Homo sapiens: one gene and its partners. The protein of the gene in region 3 purifies or fractionates together with the protein of the main gene of each other region. This does not show direct contact. Each region holds a gene or a part of one and is shown on either strand. Other genes may lie near its edges.

Region 1 (5,123 bases), on a different chromosome or scaffold from region 3:
TCTCCTACAACTGGATCCGGAAGGGAAATACACTTTAGGGGCTTGTACTTAATCACACATGGTGTGAGGGCCTCTGTTGCGAGGTAAAGCAGGTGAATTGAAGTGTTTGCATTTCCGAAAAAAAAACCTGAGGCTGCTGCTTGGTGCTGCCGGGGGCTAGATCCAGCCTTTCCAGCCCCACCTGGCAGGAACCGAGTTCCCAGTCTTTGCCCACTGTTGCCTTCCCTGCTGGGGGAAAGGCCTACCCCAAGACCACCACCCCCATCCCCCCACACCCACTGACTCCCAGAGCTGCCCCTGAGGAGAAGGGGACTTTTTAGAAATCTAGCTTCTTGGGGCTGGTGACCCCACGCCTGGAACACAGGTGGCAGGACCTAAGATACCATCGTGAAGGGCAGGAGCAAGCCTGACCCAGCTCACAGCGAATCCATTCCTGCCTCTGCCGCTATGAGCCCTGCCTAGGGCACCACCCACACTTACATATTTAAGGAAGAGGTGAAGCTCTCGATGATCTTGGGGGTTGATAGTGGCCTTGAAAAGGGGCAGGAAGATGTTCTCCAGCATCTTCCCAAAGTTTGGCAGCAGCTTCTTTGACCTAAATATGTCACTGGGGGACAGCAAAGACTCGCTTGTCAGGTGGATCCAACAGCCTGCTGCCCTGTCAGAGACCAGCCCCAGTCACTTCCTCAGGCACCCTGTGTCCCCATCAAACACCCAGAATCAAGTCAGATGGGACCAGAAAACAGATCCCTCCTCTGTCCTCCTCTCCCAGCAATGTCTGCAATATTCTGCCTTGGTTTGCAAGCTCCACACCTACCCATGCCCATCAGAGCACTTTCTCAAGCCAGAAGCCACTAGGAATGGGATGGTGGCATTCTGGCTGACCAAGAGACTGAGATATGAATCCTCAAATTCCCAGTGACCCAAACATTCTGTTACTCAGCTCTGTTTCCCTAAACCACATACCCCAGCCCATCCTGGAGCCATGGGCTCCACCCTGGCCAGCCGCCTGGAGAGGACAGCAGCCGTCTGAGTGACATCCAGGGAGAGGCCAGCAATGTAGACCACTACAGCTCTCCCCATACCCTGGGGCTCACCAAAAGGACAATCCATCCTCAACCCACAATGAGAAGAAGGCGGGGGTAGTAGTTCCCCCAAGGCCTTTGCACATCTATATTTTTCAAAGATCAAGAGTTCTAGTGTCAGCTGGATGCAGTGGCTCACACCTGTAATCCCAGCATTTTGGGAGGCTGAGGCAGGTGGATCACGAGGTCAGGAGTTCAAGACCAGCCTGGCCAAGATGGTGAAACCCCATCTCTACTAAAAATATAAAAATTGGCCAGACGTGGTGGCGGGTGCCTGTAATCCCAGCTACTCGGGAGGCTGAGGCAAAGAATTGCTTGAATCAGGGAGGTGGAGGTTGCAGTGAGCCAAGATCATGCCACTGCACTCAGAGCCTGGGTGACAGAGTGAGACTCTGTCTCAAAAAAAAAAAAAAAAAAGAGCTCTAGTGTCATGCAGACATCTTTTTCATCACTCCTTCTATGGAAAAATCCCTGGAAAGGACAAGCGTAAGCTGGCACCAGAACAGGCCCTACCCCTCAGGAGTGCAGACTCAGCAGCCCATGAGGGACAGATTGTCACCTCTGTAGGGCACAGGGTAGACAGCGGGCCACCTCACTTACTAAATCCGGGGCACCTGGATGATCCAGCGCATGTTGGGAGAGTAGACCTTGTGCTGGATGAACCAGTAGGCCAGGTTGGGCCACTCCTCAGGACTGCGGCCGTAGATGGAGAGCCGTGGCTCTGAGTACTGGTACTTGCTCTCCTCCAGCTCCCGGGCAACCTCCTGGCACAAGAAGAGCTTGGGTCAGCCCCAGTGCATCCCAGCTACATGGGAGACTCTCACTCTCCGTCACCAGCAGGGTCCTGTTGCTCCCCCAGCCACCTTGCTCCCAGGCTGGAAGCACTCATCTAAATCCCCAGGGCTGCCTGCTCCTGTAAGCTCTTGTTCCACTTTAGGAGAGGCCCCCTCTGGTGAGGAAGGCCTTGGGTCTGCAGAACCAGGCCACAGCAGAAGCATCTCCACACGGAGCTCATCTGCACCCAGCTAGGTTCAGGCTGCAGAGACACGAAAGCCAGGCCAGGTGCTGTGAGCTTGGCCAAGGTGGATACCCTTCCCTCCTCTTTCCTGCAGTTGGCACATGCAGCACTGCCTGGAGCAGGCAGCCAGACCACAGCACTGGGCACCTGGGCACCTCACCCTTCCCTGAGCTGATGGTACACAGAGGGAGGGGAAGGGGCCAGGGGCACACAGGGCCCCCACTCTCTGAAGGCAGATGTTGGGAGGCACCTGAGAGGCCTCAGAGAGACTGAGGGTTCACTCACCTTGACCATCCGAGCAAAGTACTCTCCTCCCAGATAGTTTTCAGTTTTCAAATACAGGTCACGCAGCTCACTGGCCCCCACAGGGTTGTATTTGGAGTTGAACTTGTCAAAGCGGTGGAATGTCTGCCGGCCCTGAGGGGGGAGACCACACCAATCAACGCATCGTTCTGCAGCCACCATGCACGTTCCCCTCTCTAGACCTTTACGAGGCGGCCTTCTGTATGGCCACACCGAAAGACATCTTCTATGTCAATTCTTGCATGAAACCTTAGAAACTCCTGAGCACCAGGACCATGGATCCTCACTCGGTCAGCTTGGGATCCTTTGGCAAGGCCCCCTGTGAAGGAACAGCAGAGGCCCCACCTGCAAGTTACCACAGCTCGGCTCAGGACATGGCTGACTTAGTGAGCAGAGAGGCTGCACCACTGAATAATAGAACATTCCCTATCACTACTCACATTTTGTAAAGCACTTTCTCCACATTATATCATTCAATGTTTTGTTTAACAAAAGTTTTTTTTGTTCTAATAAAGCATGTACAACACAACGTTTACCATTTCAACCATTTTTAACCATACAGTTCCAGTGGCTTTAAGTACATTGACATTGTTGTGCAACCATCACCACTAACCATTTCCAGAACTTTTTTATCATCCCAAACAAACTCTATACCCACTAAACACTAACTTCCCATACCTTCCTCTCCCCAGCCCCTGGTAGCTTCTACTCTCCTTTCTGTTTCTATGAATTTGCCTATTCTAGGGACCTTATATCAGTGGAATCATATGATATTTGTCCTTTTGTGTCTGGCTTCGATTTAGTATAATCTTTTGAAAAATCCATTCATGGTTGTTGCATGTACAGTACTTGACTCCCTTTTATGGCTGAATGATATTCCGTTGTATGGATATACCACATTTTGTTTACCCATTCATCTGTTGATGAACACCGGCTGTTTCTATCTGTTGGCTGCTATGAATAATACTGCTATGAACATTGGTATGTGAGTATCTGTTCAAGTTCCTGCTTTCAGTTCTTTTGGGTATATACCTAGAAATGAATTGCTGAGGCATAGGTAATTCTATACTTAACTTTTTTAGGAACTACCATACTGTTTTCCATAGCAGTTACACCATCATTTAGTGTTTTAATATTTTTTTAAGTTAATAAGGCACATGGCTGTCACCATTTTATAGGCAAGGAAATAAAGGCTTCTGTGAGTTGCCTAAGGGCACAAAACTCCTAAGTGGCAGGAGTGGGATTAGTGCTTAGACCTGTCAGGCCCCAAGCCACACACCCTCTTTCCCTGTCCCATGGCTGCCCCAGACCTGTTATTCTCTGAGGCCGCATGACCTCTCAGTCAGATAGAAGAGAAAGCTGCTTCCGTAGCACCTCCCGGCAAGCACAATCATGGTGGCTTTCCAGGGGGCTGAGTCCCCAGCCAGGGCTGCTGTCTGCTGGCGGCACTGGAGCAGAAGCTCACTCACCGCGTGGACATCCAGTGAGTCCACAGTGAGGTCGTAGGGGTCCATGTGCAGGCCGTCAAACACCTGCCGCAGGGTGATCTTCCGGCCCCGCTTCTCTGCCACAGTCCTGTCAGGCTCCGTCTGGTATGTGTGCTTGATGAAGCGCAGCAGATGCTTTTGGTTCATGCAGGCGGCCGCATGGATGTGTGTGTCCACCTGGAACACAGCGCCCACCAGGCCCTGAGTCAGGCCACCTCCCCTAGCAACAAGAGTTAAGACATCCAACCCTCAATGTGCACAGAACCCCAGCACCTCATGGGCCATCCGGGCAGCCCCACCAGTGTCTGGATCCCACCCCCCATTTCTCCTCCAGACTTCGGAACTGGTATCCCTCCCTTTCAGCCTTGCTGCGCATTCCACCTCCTTACAGCACCAGGAAATCTTTTTAAAATGCAGATTGGATCAGGCCATTCCCCAGTTAACAAATGACCTATGGGCCCATCAGTCTCAAGATAAAGCCCAAGCACCTTGGCCTGAGATTCAAGGCTTATTTCAAGCCTTAACTCTCGCCTTGCCACTGCCCCATTCTGTGCTGCAGCCGTGACAAACCACTTACGGGTACACCACACACCAAGGTACAGTACACTGCATCCCTTTGCCCACGTGTTTCTTCAGTCTGGAATGCCCTCCTTTCTCTCCACCATCTCATCCACCTAGAAATTTCCCACAACCTCCTCCATTTGGGAGCCAACCTTGTTCCTCCAAGCACAACTGAATGCTCTTTCCCTTGCCCAACCTCAAAACCTGGCACAGGCATCCCATTGTTGTGCAGACCGTCCCGATCACTCTAACGTTTGTGTGTCTACGCTTTCACTAGACTGGGAGCTCCTCAAGGACAAGGGCCATGTTTGATGCCTCTAAGTCTTCAGCACCTACCCCAGAGCCTAGTACAAAGTCGAACCAATGGATGAATGAATGAACAAATTAACAGGTACGACAGGTTCTCACAGTTTTAGTGATAACCCTGAGGGCCCATCAAATCCCACTCTTCCCATTGATCCCTCTCAGAACCCTCAGAGCATTCCCAAAGCAAACCTCCAAGTGGGAATGAATGAAAAGAACAGACACTAAAGGCCAAGCCTCCAAACACACCCTTCCTTGACTAGTTACACCTCACCCAAACTCCAGGGCATCCAAGTCCCAAGAAGAAGCCACTCTACTGGAAGCCGCTCTACTGACCCTAAGCCAACATATGGACTCAAGCTGTGG
Region 2 (5,123 bases), on a different chromosome or scaffold from region 3:
AGCAACCCTGGGCTGTGGCCTACCCATCTCCCCACACCTGTCTCCGGTACTGAGCAGCAGAGTCCAGCTCTATGGCCTCAGCTCTGTGGGCAACCCTCAGGTACCAGCATGGCCAAGGCCTTCCTCTCCATGCTGCCTGCCCTTCTCCTGTGTCCCACCCAGAACACAGCTTTTCCATGGGAACATTTCACTGGGCTGGAGTGATGCCCAGGTAGGGCCTTACTTACCCTCATGGGGTACACAGTACACAGGGCCTTCATCAGTGGTGTCAAACGAGGAGAAGGAGGCCCGAGAGGACCAGGATGGTGAGGGCTGCTCCAGCCCTGAGGGTGGCTCCAGGAAGCTGCAGTTGAGTGTGTTATCCAGGTCGTGGTGGGCCACTGGGGAAGGATGAGGCAGAGCTGCCAGGGGTCCACTCTGCCCCAGCCGGTGCCCTCATTAGCCCCTGCTGTGACAAATGTTGATGGGGTGACCAAGACCAGCCCTATTCTTGGACTGCAGGGGGCACAGGCAACTCAACAGGTACAGTGACACTGGGCCAGGACTGGAGAATGGGTAGAGGTGAACCCAGAAAAGAAACATGGGCACAACATGTGTTAAGGTGCAAGGCAAGTGTGTGCATCCAGGGAGCTGGAAAAGGTTGGGCTGACGTGTTGAGAAAAGGCCAGAAAGGTGGGAGACGGGGCTGAAGAAGACACCTGGCTGGGACAGGCCACCAAGGCCTCCAAGCTCTGTTTTAGGCCCTGCCTTGTGCGAATAAGGAAGCCTTGGAGCACTTCTGAGCCCAAATGCGCAGTGGCAGGGCTGCCCTTTGGCTCAGCCCATCTCAGCAAGCTGCACCCTAGGCCTGGCCTCCAGAGATGCAGACCCCACAACAGGGGGCCCCAGAAGCTGGCTAGCCTGGCCTCCATTCCACAGAGGGATGTGGGGTCCACTCCCCACACCTATGTCCCCAGATGCCATGCTGCTAGGTGGGCCAAGGGGTTTTCTCTCTCTTGCTTGCTTGCTTTTTCTTTTCTTTCGACAGTTTTGGGGTTTCTCCTCCCTCCCTCCCTCCCTCCCTCCCTTCCTTCTCTTTCTTCTTTTCTCTTCTCTTCTCTTCTCCTCTCCTCTCCTCTCTTCTCTTCTCTTTTTTCTTGACAGTTTTGCTCTTGTTGCCCAGGCTGGAGTGCAATGGTGCGATCTCGGCTCACTGCAACCTCTGCCTCCCTGCAACCTCTGCCTCCCAGGTTCAAGTGATTCTCTTGCCTCAGCCTCCAGAGTAGCTGGGATTATAGGCATGCGCCACCACACCCGGCTACTTTCGTATTTTTAGTAGAGACCGGGTTTCTCCATGTTGGTCAGGCTGGTCTTGAACTCCAGGCCTCAGGTGATCCACCTGCCTCGGCCTCCCAAAGTGCTGAGATTACAGGCATGAGCCACCATGCCCGGCTTGGCTAAGGGGTTTTCTCAGCTGTTTCCTTCATCTCCCAAGAGTCTGAGCCCCCTTCCCCTCCATCTTTAGAAATAAGTGGGAAAGAGAGGAAGAGAGGGTCCACCCAGGTGCAAGTCAGCATGGAGAGAAGCGGCACACCCCACCCCCCTATCCTGTTGGTGGGTGGGGACCAGCCTGCCCACTTTCCAGGAGGATCTCTGGGTACTGCTGGGGATGTAGGCAGGAGGGTGGGTCCTCTCCGTGGGGCAGGGCACTCCCGTGGCCACGCATTCCCCCAGCAGCTCTGGCCGGGATATACAGCATTCTCCTACAGACTGGGGGAGCCTGCGGGACCCAGATGTCCACACACCCCTGATGCGATCACTCTCAGGGCCAACGTTTCTGACATATGCCCACATCAGCCGGCGCACCTAGGACTCCTGCCTTCCTACCTTGCCTCGCCCTCAGCAGCTGCCACACCTCTTACCTTCCCTCTGGTCGCACCTCCTCGCGCCCACGCACATCAACACTCAAGGTCCCCCATTTCCTCACTGAGATCTGGACCCCCTCACACCCATTTCCCAGCAGCTTCCTGCGTCGAGAGGTGTTTCTCCCAGATACCCCGCGCTGTCATCCTTACCTACGACTTTGGGTAGTTTCTGCCTCCGGAGCGGGATCCGGGGCAGCTTCATGCTGATGCGACTGAAGCGCCCGCATAGTCGGTGCGGCGCCTTCTTCCTCCCAAGCGAAAGCTCCCTGCGGGGGCGGGGTCTGAGCGGAGGGGCGGGGCCGGGGCGGGGCCCAGGGGCGATTAGATCTCGGCCGGAGCCAAGCACAGAAGGGGCGGGGCCACGTCCGGGGCAGGGGCGCGGAAGGGTTGGATCTGGGTCCGGTGGCACCCAGAGGGTGCGGCCTGAACCCAGGCGAAAGCGGGGCAGTATCTGGGCTCACCGGCGCGTAGGGTCCTTGCCGCGGCAAGCGCAGCAGCAGCCGAGCAGCGAGAGCAGCAGGCAGACGAGCAGGACGAGCAGCGCGCCCGCGCCCATCACGCCCTTGCGCTGGTTGGTTTCTGTAGGGGGTTATGGGGTCAGCGCGGTTTCTGGCACCCCCTGCATTCCTTAACGGGACGCCCCTCATCCACTTACCTAGGTGGCAGGCACCAGTGACCGGGTCGCACGTGTCCTCGTGGCAGCTGCAGGCCTGAGCACAGTCCGCGCCGTGGAGTCCGGGCGGGCACGTCACGTTACAGCTGCCGGGACATAGGGTCAAGGCATGCCACAGCCGCCCCCCTAGGATGCCCCCTACCCTCACCCCTCACCCGCGGCCAGGGCCCAGGGTCCAGGGTCCCAGAACCGGGCTCTCTCTCGCTGCATTCGTCGTCTAGGGATTGAAGCCCCGCCCCGCCCGTGGCACATATTGGGTAGTGGATGTTTTGGAAACGAATGTTGCACAACACTAGTGGGGGGGCCTGGGGGATAGGACCCGTGGTGGCCGCGCCGCAGCGCCCACTGCTGGGGCTGACTCGGCTAGGTGGGAAGAGGGGCTGCTGAACCAGACCCTTGGCTGTAAGTGGAGGTCCCTGGTCCTTCTGTACCAACTCGGGGTCACCTTAAGAGCCCACTGACACAGGCTGGACTGGTCACCAGATCCTGCGCTGAACGTGAGCTCCCCGACATCCAGGCAGGAAACTGCCCCCAAAGAGCCTACTGTCACTCCCTAGCTGGGGTAAGGGACCAAGGCTGAGGTGATAACCCAGCTCAGGGTGGAGAGGCCACCTCGTCGGCTGGACCCCCCTCTGTGGCAGGTACAAGCCCCCAACCCCCTCCCGGTCCCGGGGCACTCACTGGGGCCCGTGGACGCCAGGGCTGCACAGGCAGCGCCCCGACTGGAAGTCGCAGTGTCCGCTGCCGCAGTCGGCGCACACGAAGGCGCAGTCCTCGCCGTAAGTGCCATTGCTACACTTGGTCTCGCACCTTGGAAAGAGGGGAGGAGGCGTCAGCAGAAATGGAGGCAAACGGACCACAGCGCCCTCGACATTGGGGCCTTTGTTAGGGAGGCAGGGCGGGGGACTGCGTGTCTGGGCCGACGCAGGCAGGGCTGCTCACCGGTCGCCGATCCAGCCCGCGTTGCAGCGCGTACACTTGCCGGTGACATGGTTACAGGCATGCCCGTCGCGGCATGGCGGACAGCGGTGGCTGCAGCCCTCGCCATAGAAACCGGTGGCGCAAGGCTGGTCGCACTTGGTTCCGTTCCAGCCGGGCTCGCACGTCAAGCAGCGGCCCTCGGCCACCGTGCACGGCTGCTGGCCCTTGCACTGGCCACACCTGGGGGAGGGGTCGGAGGCTAGGGAAGGCTGGGACCCGCCTCACCCCTGTCCCCATCGGCGGCCCGCCCTTCCACCTCCTCCCTCCCTGGCCGAGAGACCGCGCTTACCGGCGGCGACAGCCCAAGCCGTAGAAGCCGGCGGGGCACGGCTCGCGACAGTACTTGCCGCGGTAGCCCGGCTCGCAGGCACACGTGCCGTCCACAGGGTGGCAGCGGCCGCGGAAGCACTGGCAGTAGCGATCGCAGCGCGCGCCGAACGTACGCTCGCGGCACTGACAGCGGCCGCTCTGCTGCTCGCAGGGAGACGAGTTGCAGGCGCACTGGTTGTTGCAGCTGCGGCCCCACCAGCCTGCGTGGCACAGGCAGGCGCCGGTCTGTGGGTCGCAGCGCGACGTGGCGCTGCAGTAGCACGCGCTGGCGCACTGCGCGCCCCACCAGCCGGGCTCACAGCGGCACGCGCCGCTCCGCGGGTGGCACGTGCCGTGCTGGCACTGGCACGCATGCTCGCAGCGCGCGCCCCAGCGCCGCGCGTGACAAGTACACTGGCCTGTCACGTCCTCGCACTGCCCGTGTGGGTGGCAGCTACACAGCTCCTTGCAGTCGGGGCCCCAGAACTGGCGCGGGCACTCTGCAGGGGAGGAGCGGAGGGGGTGGAAGGCCCCGGTGCTTGAGTAGGTGCCCCCAGCCAGCCGGAACCTGCCCGCGTCCCGCACTCCAGCCGCCACCTCTGGGGACCCGCCCCGAAGGCGGATCCGACCCCGCCCCACCTTGGACCCCGCCCCATCTCTCCAGGATTCCGCCCCACCGACCAATACCGGCCCGACCCCACGCTCACTGGTGTCGCAGTTGGCACCGAAGTAGCCGTGGCGGCAGCGGCACTCGCCAGGCCTCACGCACACCTCGTTCTCTGAGCACGTGGAGTTGCCTTCGCACACCGCTGTGGACGAGACAGGCCAGAGCTGCTGCGCGTCCTAGCCCCGCCCCCTCCCCCGCCCCAGGTCCCCGGGATGACCCACTCACCAATCCCACACTCGTCCCCTTGCTGCCTCCAGCCAGCGCAGCACGTGGGCACCTGGGAGCTGCGAGCAGAGGGAGGACATCTAAGCCCGATGCCCCTCCCCCAGCCCCCATCTGCTCCGGGCTCCTCCGCAGCCTCCGCACAGCCTCCCTGCCTCTGCAGTTGCGCTCCTGTCCTAGGGGGGTGGTTAATGAGGTCCTGCCAGGCAGTCGTCTGGCGGTGGAGGATTGCCACAAACAGACCTCACCGCCAAGAACTTTCCAGCCCAGAACCACCCACCCCATCTCACCTAACTCCTTTGTGTCCTCCTCCCACAGCCATTAGGCCTGAGAAAAGTGGCCTTGGAGTCCCAGGAAGGACAGCAGT
Region 3 (3,846 bases):
GCACCTAACCTCACCAACCTCAAGCCCTCCCTCCTCAAGTCTCCATGCAAAGACTGTGCCAGTCAGAGTGGAGCTGTCCCCCCGACGAGCCCCCAGAAGCACCCGGCCGGCCATGGCTGTCATTTTGAGGGCGGAAAATAACTGGATTTCTGGTTAATTGGTGACATCCTCAAGAGCTGTGGCAAGCCATGTCTCGGCCGCGTGATGGGGCAGACATGGTGGGTCCTGACGGCCTTGTCTTCACCAAGTGCTCCTAACTCTCAGCAAACTTGGGGTTCATGACCGTCGTGGTGGCGCTCTTGAAAAGGGGATTATCCTGGTGGGAAATGCAAACAGGGGCTTGTGAGTGTGGGAGGTTTTCAGAGCAGAATCTTTCTCCCTGAGGACACTCCCCGCATGGAAGCCGTCACTTTGAGGAAGAGCTAGACGTGGGGCAGCCCCCCCAGGGTCCCAGCACCGGCAGCCAAGCTCACCCACAGCGGCGGACGCCCAGAGGACAAGCTGCCTGGGGAGGCCGGGGTGCAGCCACACACGGGTGTCCACGGCCTCCCGCAGCAGGAGGTCGCATAGTGTGGGACGCACGTGCCCCTCTGCGTGGGACCCCCAAGGACGGCCACTTACATTGTTCCACTGGGACTTGAGCTTCTCCTTCTCAAAGCGCCTGTACTCCCGGAGGTCGCTCAGGTGGATCAGAGCCTTCCAGATGACCAGCAGGAGAATGCCGATCAGCACGATGCCTGCCACGGTGCCCCCGACGATGGCGGCGATGTTGGGGCCTGCCACACACTCTAGGGAAGAAGCAGCACACCTGAGCGTCAGTCCAGCCCCATCTCACTGAGCCGTGTGCCCACAGGTCCGAGGTCACCCCACAACACAGCACTTAGAGAGACGGAGGTTCCCAGGGCCCCGGCTCACCATCCATCACCATGGCCAGGGGTCAGTGAGAACCTGGCCCAGCCCCTGCTGGATTCCAGGCCAGGCCCTGTGGTTCCAAATGAAACCTAAGGGCCATTGCCACCACCCCTGCTGACAGAGAAGAAGGCAGGGCCAGGGTACCGGGCAGCCAGGACAGAGTGCTAATACTGGGGGGTAGGACACAGTGCGAGGGACCCCGCTCTCCTACAGCAGAGTTCAGAACCAGGCTCAGGGTCCCTGCTGGAGTTCACTCCCCATACTGTGAAAGTGATTTGTGGTCGTCAAGGACAAGACCAGAGACCAGAGCTCAGCAGGTGAGGCCGGTGCCAGGATGAGCAACGCAAGGTCCTGGTTCCCACGGCAGCTGTGCCCACCTCCTGAGCATGGGGACTGTGGGCCATAGTGGGCCAGGCCCACAGCTGCTGACCCTGGGACAGACACTAGCGTTCAGTGCAGTCCCTGGCCTGGTCTGGCATCCTCACTCCCTGTACCCCTCCTGCCATCCTGACCTGCACCCTCACTCCCTGTGGTTGCTCCTGCCATCCTGATCTGCACCCTCACTCCCTGTGCCCCCTCCTGCCATCCTGACCTGCACTCTCACTCCCCGTGCCCCCTCCTGCCATCCTGCCTTTCCTGGGGGACCTGCCTTCCTTCACCTGTCCTCAAAGGTGAAGTGACTTGGCCAGGATTGCACAAACCAGACGTGACCCAAGTCTGTCCCTCAAAGTGGCCCGCAGGGGTTCCTGCCCTGGCAGGTGGGGGTCTGCAGCCCCAGGCCCACATGTGGGTTGTGAGCTCCAGGCATGTCACCTACAGGCTCAGAGACCCCCGCCGCCTGCCTCGGGTCCCTTCCTGGTGAGGGAGGAGCTCCCAGGTCTCAGTTCTGCAAGAGTCCTGGCCGGCTGCTGGCCATGCCTGATGGAGTCCGCCAGCGGCCCCCCAGCCCCAGCCCCTCTGCCTCTCAGGAGCCTGTGGAACATGAGACCTGAAGAAGCAGGGCCAGTGTCACCAAGGTCACCGTGGGGCTGGGCCTGGTTCCAACTGGAGCTGAATGAGACAGGGTCAGTGCCACCAAGGTCACTGTGGGGCTGGGACTGGTTCCGACTGGAGCCGAATGAGACAGGGTCAGTGCCACCAAGGTCACTGTGGGGCTGGGACTGGTTCCGACTGGACTGGAGCCGAACGAGTGATGGGGACGGTGGTGCCTGGTGGCCCTGGGCCCCTCCAGGGCTGAGAGCCGAGCACCAGGATCTCCCAATCCCCTCAAAGGAGCCTCACGCAGCAACCTGACCGCGGGCCACCCCTGGGGACCTGCAACTGCAAGCCTTGCCCCATGAGGCATCCAGCGGGAGATGGCCCGGGCCGTGTGGCATGCTGGTGGGCCTGCCCGGTGTGGAGCAGTGGTGCCCCCAGGGAGCAGGCCGTCTGCTGCCCAGCTTGATGTGGGGTCAGGTGAGGAGGGGAGGGAAAGGGGAGGCTGCTGGGGGTGAGGGGACCGGCCTCTGGCCTCCTTGCAATGCCAAGGGCATCCCGCATGGCTCATCCACCCTGCTGGGCCCACAACACTGGAGGTGAGATCCTCCTTCCGCACCACCCTCGCCTCTGCGGAGACCCCGCAGCCGGAGCTCTGGAGCCGGTCCCCGCTGCACCCCAGCGGCCTCACCTCGGCTCTCATCCACATAGATGAGGTAGCGGTCCATCCCGTCCTGCTGCTCCAGCGTGTAGGCCACCCAGCAGCCCTCTGAGTCCCTCTCCTTGCAGGTCCTGCCCTTCACGGGGTTGTTCGACAGCTGCAGGCCCGGACACGCCGCGCTGCAGTTCTTCCCAAAGGGGCCCTTTTCGAACTTCAGGCACTCGGCGCAGGAGCTGCGGGGAGCCAGGTGTGAGCATCGGTGCCAGGGTGTGCGGGGGCTCCGGCAACGGGGGCTCGGGCTTGGGTGTGTGTCCACCAGGGGGGGCAGGTGGGGTTGGGGCGCCCTCAGGCCAAGGAGGGGGCCCAAGTGGGGCAGATGCGGGTGCAGCGGGTGAACTGGAAGCCTGATCCCAGGGCCCGCGGCAGGTGCGCACAGGAGGGAGGAGGGACACAGGGGCACGGCGGCCGCGGAGGGCCCCTCAGTCCAGACGCACCCGCAGAGAACCCCGCGGTGCAGAGGTGCTCACTGGGGTCCCCGAGTGAGCCCGGCTGCTGGGTAGGTGGCCGGGGAGTGGGGATCCCTGCCCGCCCTGCCTGCTCCGCCTGCACTCACATGTACTTGCCACAGGGTGAGGGGCAGCCGGGGCACTCCTGGCACAGAGGCAGCTGGTAGCCTGAATGGCACTCGCATACGTTGCAGCGGCACCGGCCACGACCACTACACTCAACACGCCGCGGGTTCAGGCAGCCCTCAGTGGTCCTCTCGCACTGGCACGCTGAGCCCTCAAAGCCCGGGTGGCAGCGGCACTTCCCGCAGAAGCAGAGCCCCCTCCCTGGAAGACGGGGCAGCACGGCTAAGCTCCTGCTTGGCCTGGGAACCGAGACCCGCCCGAAACCCCACTGCGGTTGCTCCCTCCGGCCCGCCTGCCTCCTCCAGCCTGGGGGATGTTCCTGAGCAAAAGGCATGGGGCCACTAGCCAGGCCCTTCTGCCCCCGCCAGCCACGTGGCCGCCTCCTGGCCAGTCTGGACCTCCCCTGCCCTGCTGTGAATGGGACCTCAATAGGGCTATGACCGTTCCTCCTGTGGGCCCTCCCCACAAGGACGCCTTGTCCTCATGGACACAGAAACTGAGGCAGGGCGGGGTGCAGGGCCATCCAAGTTCCTGCTGACGCCCGGTGGCTGGGCGAGACTTGCACTGTCTGTCCTCAGGATCCCCCCTTTCTGTTCCACTCGTTGAATGGTCCAGAACGCACCCCCCAACACCAAGTCTGTGCCGCAGGACGGCCGTTGTCCAGCA
Region 4 (5,657 bases), on a different chromosome or scaffold from region 3:
AACAATTCTCAAATATTCAGAGTCAGGCTTTTGGGTGGGAGTCCATTCTGCCCCTTCATTTCTCTGCCCTGTCTCTTCTGCGGTGATATGACTGTCACCTCTTGGCCAGTTTTTTGTTCAACAGGTGAAAGTGAGTGGGCCCAGGAGGGACAATGAGCATTAATGAATCCATGTAAGGATCTAGGGACAAGAGAAGTGAAGGCTGGAGAAGGGACCACAGCCAGCAGAGGCCCATGCCTCCCTAGTCCTAGCTGGGCCTGACCAAATCCTCCAGATTTCTGAATACCTGGTTTCTGTTTGCTGCCTAGGATTCACAGGTTAGACAGTCCCTGAATAACCCCTGAAGAGTCCTTGCTGGCCATACTCCAGCCCCCGGTCCTATTTATTGTTACAGAATCCCAGAAGCTCTTCAATCTGATCAAGCAGGAAACAATTACTGTCAATGAATTCCCTGCCACTTTCCGTAGGCGTTTGGCGAATCTTCAGTGAGTCTCTTGTGGATGTGGCTCCAACATTCCTTTGCTGAATGTTTCCACTGCTGCTGTCCTTGTGGCAGCAGCAGAGGCTGGGGGCGGCTGTGACCCTCTCCTTCTCACATCGGGGAGTGTGGGTGGGCTGTGTACATAGGAAGTTCATGCTGAAGCTTAATTGAAATGAGCAAGTTGCTTCTGGGCCTCAAGAATAACAGCATTGATGTTCAGCTTAGATTTGAAAACCAAGTGCTTCAGGAAATTCAGTTCAGTTTTTGGTGGTTGATGTTTGGAAGTGTGATTGTATTTTTACTTCTCTTTCAGTATTATTTTTCCCCTTCCCTATAGCAACACAGATATAGCTGGGAGTCAAGAGACCATATCATAGTTATTACTCTCCCAACAGCATTCTGTGTCTGAACTAAGTCACTCTCTACCTCACTAAGCTGCAGTTTCACCTCCTGTAAAATGGGAACATGAACAGTAGATCTCACTGTGTTGTGGTGAGGTCGAAAGCAAAAGCGGCAATCGAGTGCTGCGCACAAGCAAGGCACAGCTGTTATTTCTTCCTTCATATCAGGCAGCACGCTACAATTCCTTAAAATAGCAAAGTTTTCCTTCCCTTTCTAACAGTTTTCACTTTGAATGAAAGGCTGGAGCTAGAACAACGTTATCCATTTGCACAAGGCGCCACAGCCCTGTGTGCCAGGCCAGGCAGCCCTGTGGCATTAACAGGGACAGTTAGATCAGAGTAAATACAACTGTGCCTGCAACCATTTTGCCATGGTTCATGTGCCTGCGCATCCAGATTCTACTGGGACAGGGGTGCTCCTGTGACTTCTTAGATTACTCTGCCCATCACAGATTACAATAGGCCTTTCCAGCTGTGCTGCAGGAAGCTAATTAAGAGGCTTTGCCTGCAGGGGTATGGTGGGGAAGTTGATCTAATATCTGGAACTCATAATCAAGAGCATCTGCATTTAAGAAAAAAACCCTGTTTTCCAGCTGGTCAGCACTCTTCTGGGCTCTGAAGGGAAAGAGGTTTGCTGTAAAGATGGCTCTTGATGGAAAGCCCTCAATACCTTTGAGGATCCTTCACTGTGGCTGTGCAGAGAGATGCCCTTACAGGTGACACTGTTGCAGGGCATGCTATAAGGATCTTCTCCTGACTTAGTGGCGAAGATACAGAAGAAATAGAACCCTCCTAGGCAAATTGAGGCACCCAAACATAACACAATTCATTGGCAGGAAAGGCAGAGAGACCAACGGAGAGGTGGGCAGAGATAATAAAAATGCCAGGTGCTTGCATTTTGATGTTGAGGCCTCATATCCCTCTCATCTTTCTGACATCCCCCCTCACTCTATTCTGCACACTGCCCAAGTCAAAGCTGATTCTCCCACTTCCAGAAAGACCCCAGGATATCCCCAGTATTCTCCTCTTTCCAGGAGGGTGTTGAGGTTGCAGCCAGGCCTGGTTTGATTTCACTCTGCAGGGTGGCCAGATGTGCTCCCAGCAGGCCCTCTCCGCCAGAGCCCCAAACTCCTGAAAGGCCTAGACCATAAAGCCACAAGTAGAGGAAACAAGAGCAACTATGCCCTACAAGGGGCAGCCTGTACCCGTACCCAGAGCACTCCTAGTGCAAGGAGCCAAGACTTTCAGGGCCTGTGAAGTCAACTCTATCACCCCCAACAATGAGTTTTGATTTGAGCACAGATCTGCCCAGTCTCTTGGAGGTTTGGGCATTGCTTGTGGGTGTGAACGCCAGACCCCGATGGTATTTAGGCTTCCTCTGAGGAGTCACTACAAGATTCTACTCATATATAGTTTTACCTAGTTATGAAAAAGAAGTTGGTGCAACCAGGTAGGCTGGAAGCTGCAGCAAAGCCTGGGTATTTGTGACGCAGGTATGGCCTGGTTTTTGAGGTAGAAATGTTGCCTGCCTCTGCCTGGGTCAGTATTAGGGCCACTATCAGACCAGACCTTCTGCTTGAGTTTGTCTCCTAAAGCCAACACATCTTCAGGGTCTCAAAGGAATTCCTGCAATGATAGTGTCCTACATTTACAAACCCAGCTATTACTTTAAGACAGACTCCAATCCTGGCTCCAGTGCACACTTCAGGACTGTGGGAAAGTGGAACCACTCAGGACTCAGTTTCCCCATTTGAACAGTGTGTGTGAGGGCCCAGTGCATTCTCCTGCTCTTCATCGGGCAGGACAAGAAGTGCCACATTGCCCTTGCTGTACCCAGAGAGCAGTGTCGGGTGCCAGCAGTGTCTGAGTGCAGGGCCTGGCCAGGAGCACAGGAGCCTGGGGCACCTTAGATGCTGCCACCGTGTGTGGCCCAGGTTCTTGTCTGGAGTCGCTGGCCGGGGGCCTGGCTGGGTTGGAATAGGTGTACTGCTGGGTGGGCTTTGCCCTTGGCACCCTCCCACGGTGATTATGGCCAAAGAGTTGCCATTTCCCCCTTTCTGCAGTGGCTGGGAGGAGAAGCTGAAAGCGCTGTCCGTCTCAGGCTCTTGGCCTGCGTCGAAAGTCTCTGGTCCACTTCCCCACTCCCTTCTACAAAGCGGCGGCCTCCCGCTTTCCCTCCATGGTCCTCCACCTCCCTCCCTCTCTCCTTCCACCGCGTGCAGGGCTGGTGTCCGAGCGCTCCATGCTGCAAGGTTTTTAGTTCGGGCTTTGTCCCCTGCGCCCCCAGCCCAGTTCAATGCCCCCAGCGGCTTGCGCTCCGAGCCCCGACTACCTGACCTTCCGCAGCCCCTGGCCAGGCGGCTCGGCTTACCCGTGCTGGCGGCCCCGGAGCCTGCTGTGCTGCAGCACCAGCTGGTAGGGCGACTTGGCGGGACCCGCCAGGGTCGCGGCGGGGCCCAGGGCCAGAGCCAGGGCGAGAGCCAGCAGCCGCACGAAGAGCGCCATGGAGCGGGACGACGCGCACCGAGCGAGCTAGCGACCGACGGGCAAGCGGGCGGCTCCAGGGAAGTGAGAGCGCCTCCGCCGCCCGGGCCAGGTTAAGTAAGCTGCGAGCGGGAGGGAGCGGACGCCAGGGGCGGGGAAGCTGGGCCGGCCCGTGCAAGGAGGGCGGGCCGCCTGGCGCCTCCCAACCCGTGCGCCCCTGGCTGCCCTGGGCACCCACCCGCTCCCGCACTGTGCCCGTGCTCAGTTTTCCCAGCCCTTGCCCTCACTGCCAGCCCTCCCTCCCTCTCTCCCTCGCCACAGTCTTCCTCAAACCAAGGGTATAGGTCCCTTAGGCCTCCTGTGGCTGCTTCCAAATGGGGACCTTGGGACTGAGGGACAGCTGTCTCGGGGGCTTCGGTCCTGCATGCTGGGGGCCCGAAGATTCCCTCACTGATCTTGAGGCTACAAAACACTGCAGGGAGGGGTGAGGGGAGGCAGTGCTGATTCCCAGAACACCATGGCCCATCAGACTTGTTTCTGCACCCCAGGAGCTGACCACCCTCCCCAGCTCCTCAATCTCTAATCCCTCCACCCCCACCCCACCTGTCATGCTCATTGAAAGACAGATGAGTAAATCGTGTGATCCACAGAAACGCCAAAAATGTGGGGCAGGTTTTGTTGGGCTCTAAGCTGCTTTTGGAGCCCGTGGGGAAGGGTGGGGTCCTCACCTTGGTACTAATTCATTCCCTTCTTCAGTAAACATCTCTGCAACAGTACCTGCCAGATAGATTCTGCAAAGGCAAGAGTCCTGCCCTGGAGGAGCTCAAGGCAGGTAAACAAATTGTCACATGGTAAAGAGGTGATACTTACCCAAGCATCTATTAATCACCTGTCAGTTACTTGGCACTGCTAGCCCTGGGGAGACACAGATGGATTAATAGAATGAGTGAGACCTAAGCCCTTTGTGAAAAAGCTCCAATTTGGGAAGATCCGTAGCCCAAGCCAATGATGTTCCATGAAGAGTAGCTGGGGCTTTGGGAGCTAAGAAGAGGCACCTGGCCCTGACAGGGTGATACCTGCTCTGAGGCCTGAAAGATGAAAATGAGTTAATCAGGTAAACTGAGGCATGCATTCACGAAACTCAAGTTATCTGGTTGGCTGAAGCACAGGGAGGTGGAGTCAAGGGTAGGGAAGAAGGGGAGGAAGGTAGCAGGGCCCAGACTCCAGCTAAGAGCCTAGCGGGTGATGGGTGGAGGCAAGTGACATGGCCAGTGTCATGAGAGGCTTAAGGAGGCAAGAAGAACAGGTAACCAGGAAGGGACCATGGGAGAGCTTGAACTATGGTGGTAGAGGCAGAGATGGGGAAGGCTGGGCAAATGTGAGGGGTGTAGGAGGTAATAGTCTCAATAGAATTTGGAGTCTGTATACAGGGAGAAGGGGAGAAAGGAGAGTCAAGGATATTGTAGGGTGTTTGTGGTCTGGACATTGCAGCAGGTGATGGTGCCATGTTCAGAATGAGGCACATGCAGAGTGCAGGCTTGCCAGGTAGATGAGTGGTTTGGGACACCCTGAGTCTGAGGTGCTTATGACTCATCCTGGTGAAGCATCCCATGAGGATAAAGCTGGATATGAGGATCGGGGGCTTGAGTGAGGGACGCGGGATGAAGATTCACACCTGGGAGTCATCCTCCAGTGACAGAAGAGCCCAGGAAGTAGAGAATGTGGGGTTGTAGTCAAGGAGGGGTATCCTAGTAGGAGGGCGCTGCTCAAAGTGAGGAATGCTGCCAACAAGACAGATCTGAATGGCTTTCACTGTGTCAGAAGCAGAGAGGCCACTGGGGACTTGGCTGTGGAGAGCAGATGGCCAAAGCCCGAATATGGTGGTTTGATGGAGAGATGAGTAGCATGTAGAAGCTTGTCTGAGAAGGGAAGGGGCGAGTTAGGATGGCAGCCAGGGAAAGAAAAAGACAAGCGGGGCTTGGAGAGGTTAGAACTCTGGTAGAAAGAAGGTGGGAAGGAGAAGGGAGAGAGTGTGGGCACTGGAGGAGGGCCTACTGAGAGCATAAAGCAACTGAGGGCCTGCATGGGGAGTGATCAAGCTAGTGGAGAGGAGGGAACAGGTGTATGGGAGATTTTAGTGGTAGCATTGATTAGACTTGGAAACCCCTTGGGCATGCAGGGTTAGGGAGGGGGAGTAGAGCTAACCTCGAGGCTCATAGCTGGCAGGAAGGGATGCCTGTGCTGGGCACGCTGGTGAAGGTGCACATTTGGGTGTGTGAGGAGAGTGCTCC

Evidence for each region. The genes of interacting proteins can lie anywhere in the genome.
Region 1: the proteins of ITGB2 (region 3) and AMPD3 purify together in Homo sapiens (affinity purification with mass spectrometry; one large-scale study listed by BioGRID and IntAct). This does not show direct contact.
Region 2: the proteins of ITGB2 (region 3) and SCARF2 purify together in Homo sapiens (affinity purification with mass spectrometry; one large-scale study listed by BioGRID and IntAct). This does not show direct contact.
Region 4: the proteins of ITGB2 (region 3) and TGFBI purify together in Homo sapiens (co-immunoprecipitation; one study listed by IntAct). This does not show direct contact.

The regions. Positions count from the first base shown.
Region 1 is NC_000011.10:10,492,296-10,497,418, reverse strand, and holds part of AMPD3 (AMP deaminase 3), read right to left. Parts: intron 4,071-5,123; coding exon 3,876-4,070; intron 2,521-3,875; coding exon 2,389-2,520; intron 1,850-2,388; coding exon 1,686-1,849; intron 608-1,685; coding exon 481-607; intron 1-480. UniProt on the Homo sapiens protein: AMP deaminase plays a critical role in energy metabolism.
Region 2 is NC_000022.11:20,427,171-20,432,293, forward strand, and holds part of SCARF2 (scavenger receptor class F member 2 isoform 2 precursor), read right to left. Parts: intron 4,933-5,123; coding exon of another isoform or gene 4,819-4,932; coding exon 4,760-4,818; intron 4,677-4,759; coding exon 4,575-4,676; intron 4,368-4,574; coding exon 3,848-4,367; intron 3,739-3,847; coding exon 3,520-3,738; intron 3,388-3,519; coding exon 3,259-3,387; intron 2,664-3,258; coding exon 2,560-2,663; intron 2,484-2,559; coding exon 2,366-2,483; intron 2,186-2,365; coding exon of another isoform or gene 2,171-2,185; coding exon 2,055-2,170; intron 449-2,054; coding exon of another isoform or gene 381-448; coding exon 228-380; intron 1-227. UniProt on the Homo sapiens protein: Probable adhesion protein, which mediates homophilic and heterophilic interactions. In contrast to SCARF1, it poorly mediates the binding and degradation of acetylated low density lipoprotein (Ac-LDL).
Region 3 is NC_000021.9:44,886,115-44,889,960, forward strand, and holds part of ITGB2 (integrin beta-2 isoform 1 precursor), read right to left. Parts: intron 3,382-3,846; coding exon 3,162-3,381; intron 2,782-3,161; coding exon 2,579-2,781; intron 789-2,578; coding exon 622-788; intron 317-621; coding exon 254-316; 3' UTR 1-253.
Region 4 is NC_000005.10:136,026,786-136,032,442, reverse strand, and holds the start of TGFBI (transforming growth factor-beta-induced protein ig-h3 precursor), read right to left. Parts: upstream 3,456-5,657; 5' UTR 3,388-3,455; coding exon 3,254-3,387; intron 1-3,253.